Regions from separate parts of the Homo sapiens genome. Here region 1 is linked to region 2. The links come from fine-mapping of genetic effects on gene expression. A gene starts in region 2. The other region holds a variant in brackets. All regions are shown on one strand. Distances are between the middles of the regions. Region 1 overlaps PRKCG (protein kinase C gamma). Region 2 holds the start of MYADM (myeloid associated differentiation marker).

Region 1 (2,854 bases), 22 kb after region 2:
TGTGGGAGTTGGGGGGATGGGAACTATGGGAGGTTGGAAGCTCCTGCCTCCTTCATGTTCTGCCCAGATATCATTTGGTCAGCGAGGCCCCCCTGCCACTCCCCCTGCACACAGTTTTGTTGTTGTTGTTGTTGTTTGAGACAGAATCTTGCTCTGTCATCCAGGCTGGAGTGCAGTGGCACAATCTTGGCTCACTGCAACCTCGGCCTCCTGGATTCAAGCAATTCTCATGCCTCAGCCTCCTGAGTAGCTGGGATTACAGGCATGCACCACCATGTCCGGCTAATTTTTGTATTTTTAGTAGAGACAGAGTTTTGCCATGTTGCCTAGCCTGGTCCGGAACTCCTGAGCTCAAGGCAATCCGCCCACCTCGGCCTCCCAAAGTGCTGGGATTACAGGCATGAGCCACCGCACCCAGCCAGGACCACCGTATTTAAAATTTCAATCCCCCAACTTCTGGTGGTCCCCATCCCTGCCTCATTTTTTCTCCAGAGCACCCATTACCAACCATCAAACTATATGTTTTATTTATTTACCATGTTTACATTCTGTATCCCTCCATTAGGAAGTAAACTCCATGTGACAAAGAGGTTTTTTTTTTTCATTTGTTTAATGCTGGGTCCCCACACCAAGAACAGTCCCTGGCACACAGCAGGTGCTCAATGATTATTGGTACATAGAGTGAAAGAGATGGAGCCTCAGGCTGACCTAGAGAGCAAGGCAGGAGGAAAAGATAAAAGGGCCCCTCCCCTGGGGTTTTAGGACCCTCCCAACGCCCCCTAAGCCAGTCTTCTCTGCCCCCAGGACCCCCGGAACAAACACAAGTTCCGCCTGCATAGCTACAGCAGCCCCACCTTCTGCGACCACTGTGGCTCCCTCCTCTACGGGCTTGTGCACCAGGGCATGAAATGCTCCTGTGAGTGACCTGGGCCTTGCCAGGGCCCTTCCAAAGCGCCCGGTCTGGGTTCCGGGAAATGCCCGGGATGGGGTGGGGGGTGGAGTCTTGGCTTGGGGGCGGGGCCTGAGGTGCTACCCGCAGCTTTCCCCTCCAGGCTGCGAGATGAACGTGCACCGGCGCTGTGTGCGTAGCGTGCCCTCCCTGTGCGGTGTGGACCACACCGAGCGCCGCGGGCGCCTGCAGCTGGAGATCCGGGCTCCCACAGCAGATGAGATCCACGTAACTGGTGAGGCCCCGCCCCCTCGCCTGGCCCCGCCCCCTCCCCAAGTGTGAGGCGGGGCTGACCCAAGGCACTTGTGCTGGCCCAGCCCTACCCCAAAGATGGGGCCACGCCTCTTTCTATGGTCACGCCCACACTCCTGACCCCACCCCAAAGGCCGAGCACACCCAGCCATACCCCTTTTGGCTCGAAGCCCCGCCTCCAACCTGGCTTCTTGCAACTTTCTGCACCTGTTAATGACTTTGACTTTCTTTTTTTTTTTGGGACGGAGTTTCGCTCTTGTTGCTCAAGCTGGAGTGCAATGGCGCGATCTCGGCTCACTGCAACTTCCGCCTCCCGGGTTCAAGTGATTCTCCTGCCTCAGCCTCCCGAGTAGCTGGGATTACAGGCGCGTGTCACCAAGCCCGGCTAATTTTTTGTATTTTTAGTACAAACGGGGTTTCACCATGTTAGCCAGGCTGGTCTCGAACTCCTGACCCCAGGTGATCCCCTCGACTCGGCCTCCCAAAGTGCTGGGATTAACAGGCGTGAGCCACCGCGCCTGGCCAATGGCTTTCTTTTTTGTTTTT[A/G]TTTTATGTTTATTTTTTTGAGATGGAGTCTTGCTCTGTCACCCAGGCTGGAGTGCAGTGGTGCAATCTTGGCTCACTGCAATCTCTGCCTCCGGGGTTCAAGGGATTCTCCTGCCTCAGCCTCCCGAGTAGCTGGAATTACAGGCGCCTGCCACCACATCCGGCTAATTTTTTTTTTTTTTTTTTTTTGAGACAAGATCTCGCTCTGTTGCCCAGGCTGGAGTGCAGTAGCATGATCTCAGCTCACTGCAACCTCCGCCTCTCAGGTTCAAGCGATTCTCCTGCTTCAGCCTCCTGAGTAGCTGGGACTACAGGTGCATGACACTGCACCCAGCTCATTTTTGTATTTTTAGTAGAGACAGGGTTTCACCATGCTAGCCAGGCTGGTCTGGAACTCCTGACCTCAGGTGATCCGCCCGCCTCCGCCTCCCAAAGTGCTGGGATTACAGGGGTGAGGACCGTGCCCGGCAATGGCTTTCTGGGTATAAGGATCTTGAGAAGGGAGAGTACCTGGTTCTGAGGGAGGCTGTGGTTCAGTACTGGTGACATGGCCAGGGTCCAAACTCTGGTTCCTAATGGAGAGAAGGGCTCTGGATCTGATTTCAGGGTCACTGGTTGCGGAAAGGGCTCTATGCCCTGTCTTCTGGGTTCTGGAGAGGTAAGAAGTCATGAGAAACGAGACTGAGAGCTTGGAATTCTTTTTTTTTTTTTTTTGAGACGGAGTCTCGCTGTGACGCCCAGGCTGGAGTGCAGTGGCGTAATCTCGGCTCACTGCAAGCTCCGACTCCTGGGTTCACGTCATTCTCCCGCCTCAGCCTCCTGAGTAGCTGGGACCACAGACACCTGCCACCACGCCCAGCTAATTTTTTTTTTTTTTTGTATTTTTAGTGGAGACGGGGTTTCACCATTCACAGGATGGTCTCGATCTCCTGACCTTGTGATCCGCCCGCCTTGGCCTCCCAAAGTGCTGGGATTACAGGCATGAGCCGCCGTGCCTGGCCAAGCTTGGAACTCTTGATTGCTGACTGGAGGAGGGCTGGGAGCCCCTTCCTGGATCTCTAACCCGTCACACTCTTCCTCACTCCCCGTTTAGTTGGCGAGGCCCGT
Region 2 (2,898 bases):
CCCAGCCCCATCCTCATTAAAATTCTGAGTCCCTCCCTCCATCCAGGAGTCAGGAATGTAGGCCAAAAATATCGCTGCCTTCCAGACCCAGGCGGCTAGGCTTGCAACACCTGCTCGGAAAACCCGAGTCTGAGCTTTAATGGTTCTATTATGATGATCATGATGATTTATTTTTAATAGAGCAGAGTCTCCTTATGTTGCCCAGGCTGGTCTCGAACTCCTGGGCTCAAGGGATCCTCCCTCCTCAGCCTCCCGAAATGCTGGGATTACAGGCGTGAGCCACCGCGCCCAGGCCTGATTGTTCTTTTGAGCCAAGAATCTGGGCCTCAGCCTAGGCATCCTGTGGAGCCCAGGAATCCGGGCCCCCAACTGCTACCGCGCTAGCTCCCAGGAATTTTGCCCCCAACACACCCCACCCCTATCCACTGTGATATCTGAGACCTGCGTCCAGCCCGAGTCCCTTACCCTGCGGCGCCCGGTGCCAGTGGGTACTAGGGGAGCATTTTGCCGCCCCTTCAAGTCCTTAAATACAGGAATCTAGCCTCTGTTTCTTGGGGAGACCCATCAGTCAGGGATCGTAGCCCAGAACCACCTAAAGCCCAGGAATACTGCTCTCAATTCTGCTCTCCCTCAGGGCTCCAAGAGACAGAGATCCTAGCCCCCCCATTGAACTGAGGGGCCTGGTCCCCCAATCCGCTGCGACCCAGGTGTCTAAGGTTTCATCCGGCAAGGAAGGGGTGGGGGCGGAACAGACCAGGAAGGAGGGGGTAGGAAGGGAGCGGAAGAAAGGAGTGAGGTGAGACGGGGGCGGGGACCTGAGCTGGGGGGCTCTGCACTAAACAAACCCTAAACATGCGGGGTTTCTATGGTAACGGTCTTCCCTGGCCTACCCGGGAGACTCCTCTAGGGCTGTGTCGAGGAGGGCAGCCCCCAGGAGTCTCCACGCCGCCAGCTGTTGTGTCTTCCTGTTTTGTCACCACGGCAACCGTGACCTCAGCCCTCCACCCTGCTCACTGGGGTGGGGCGGGAGCTCCACGCTACTTTTACTCTGGGGGGCGTGGTCTGCTCTTGGCCCCGCCTCGGGGCGGGGCTGGGATAGCCCAGACTCGGGGAAGTCCCTGTCCACCGCCCTAGCCGGAGCTGCGCCCCGCCCCGGCCCCGCCCCCGTCCCGCCCGCGCTGGCTCCCCAGCCCTCCAACCCCACCCAGCCCTCAGACCCTTCCAGCTGCCGCTGTCGTCTTTGCTTCAGCCGCAGTCGCCACTGGCTGCCTGAGGTGAGGTTGTGGGGACCCCAGAGGGCATAAGCAACAGTCTAGGGTCTTTATGGCCAGAGAGAGGAATGGGCTGGGTCTCAGAATGTCTGGGTCCCTAGAAAGACTGGGGCTGGGCCAGGATTCTTGGGGTTCTGCAGAGGAGAGGGCTGAGGACCTGGACTGTGGAGGTCATACGTCTGGAAGAGTGGGGAAGGGGACCTGGACTCCGGGGTCTGAGGGAGGAGGGGCTGGGGGTCTGGACTCCCGGGTCCGAGGCAGGAGGGGCTGGGGGGTCTGGACTCCTGGGTCCGAGGGAGGAGGGGCTGAGGGCCTGGACTCCTGGGTCTGAGGGAGGAGGAGCTGGGCCTGGACTCCTGAGTCTGAGGGAGGAGGGGCTGGGTCTGCGGGAGTAGAGAGATGGGGACTCGTAGGTGCCCTAGTTGGAGGCTGGAATCTGGTACGTGGAGGTCCTTTAGGAGGGGAAGCGCTTAGGGTTAGGTGTCCTGGGTTTGGGAATGAGAATGGAAGGAATTCAGAATTACTGACCCCTCCCCATCCAGGGGACAGACAGAATCGGAACTTTGGGCTCCTGAAAGGCCGAGGGAGGGGGGTGTTAAGATCCAGCCCCGTGCTTCCGAAGTGCAGAAGGAGCTGGGAAAGGAGGAGAAGACAGGGCTGCGTCCCGCACCTCTGGGTGCCGAGAGCCGAAGCTGGGGTTCCGGGGCCCGATTCTCAGCGTGAGCGATGGGTGTGGCGTCTGGAGTGGACGAGGGAGGACACTGAGGGGCTGGGTGTGGCCCGGAGAGTCGGGTGCGCTGCGAGGAATCCCGGAGGGGTGTTTCCTCACCCTCCAGGGTCTGGCTGCGCATTCCTGAGCTCTGATCTCGGGCGATGGCTGGAGGCCCTAAGGGCGGGGTGGACCCCTCCCCTCCCCTCCCCTCGGCGCGCCCCCCTCCCCTGCGCGCCCCCCTCCGCGGCTAGCCCACCTTCCGCGGGGGACAGAATGAGTGACGCCCTCGCTCGTCCTCCTCCCCTGCTTGGGACGGGGCAGTAGCCCGCCTTCTAGAGCACGGGACGCTGGGCCAGTCCCGATTTCCTTCTCCTTCGAGGGTCCTGGAGGGGCGTGGGGGCAGGCAGTGTCTGGCTCCGGGTGGAGCCTCCCAGGTGCTCCCGCAAGCCCCGAATGGCGATTAGGGAGGCCGTGGGAGGCGTAGCTGGGCCTCGGGCCTGACGCCAGCACCGCGTGCAGTTTCCGGCCTGGAGCCTGAGCCCCTCAGAGGCCCGGGTCCCTGCCCACTCCGGTCTTAGAGATGCTCTTGGGGGGGCTCTCAGCCCATGTTTATAGGGATCCAGAAATGCAGGCCTCCAACCCTGAGAGTCGGGGTCCCCACCCCCCGGAAATCCGGGAGAGGGCGGGCAGCCCCGGAGGCGGGCGGGGGTCCGGGCACCGCCTCCTGGTCCCTGACACATTCCAGATGCCTGGGCCGACTCGAAGCCCTTATAAGGCGCGGAGACACCGGCTCTGGCTGGGCCGCCCGCCTCCACAGCCGCCGCCCAGGGTTCTCCCGCCACTGCCGCCCGCACCCCCGCCCCCGCGGGGTTAAGATCACACACGCGCCCACGCCGGCCCGCGGGGCGTGCACTT

Evidence for each region.
Region 1: its variant is fine-mapped to the expression of MYADM in whole blood (TOPMed, PIP above 0.99).

What each region holds. Positions count from the first base shown.
Region 1 is chr19:53,888,834-53,891,687 of GRCh38, forward strand. PRKCG (protein kinase C gamma) reads left to right here. Exons shown (of 18, transcript NM_002739.5): 4 at 805-916; 5 at 1,053-1,184; 6 at 2,841-2,854. Among named protein-coding and RNA genes, the nearest start is that of PRKCG, 8.1 kb to the left of the region's middle. The variant A/G (reference allele first, on the strand shown) is at 1,748.
Region 2 is chr19:53,866,670-53,869,567 of GRCh38, forward strand. It overlaps MYADM (myeloid associated differentiation marker), which reads left to right and starts at 1,214. Exons shown (of 3, transcript NM_138373.5): 1 at 1,214-1,274. MYADM-AS1 (MYADM antisense RNA 1) reads right to left here and starts at 2,438. Exons shown (of 3, transcript NR_184033.1): 1 at 2,240-2,438. RefSeq lists enhancers at 19-994, 2,104-2,898 and a silencer at 2,770-2,829.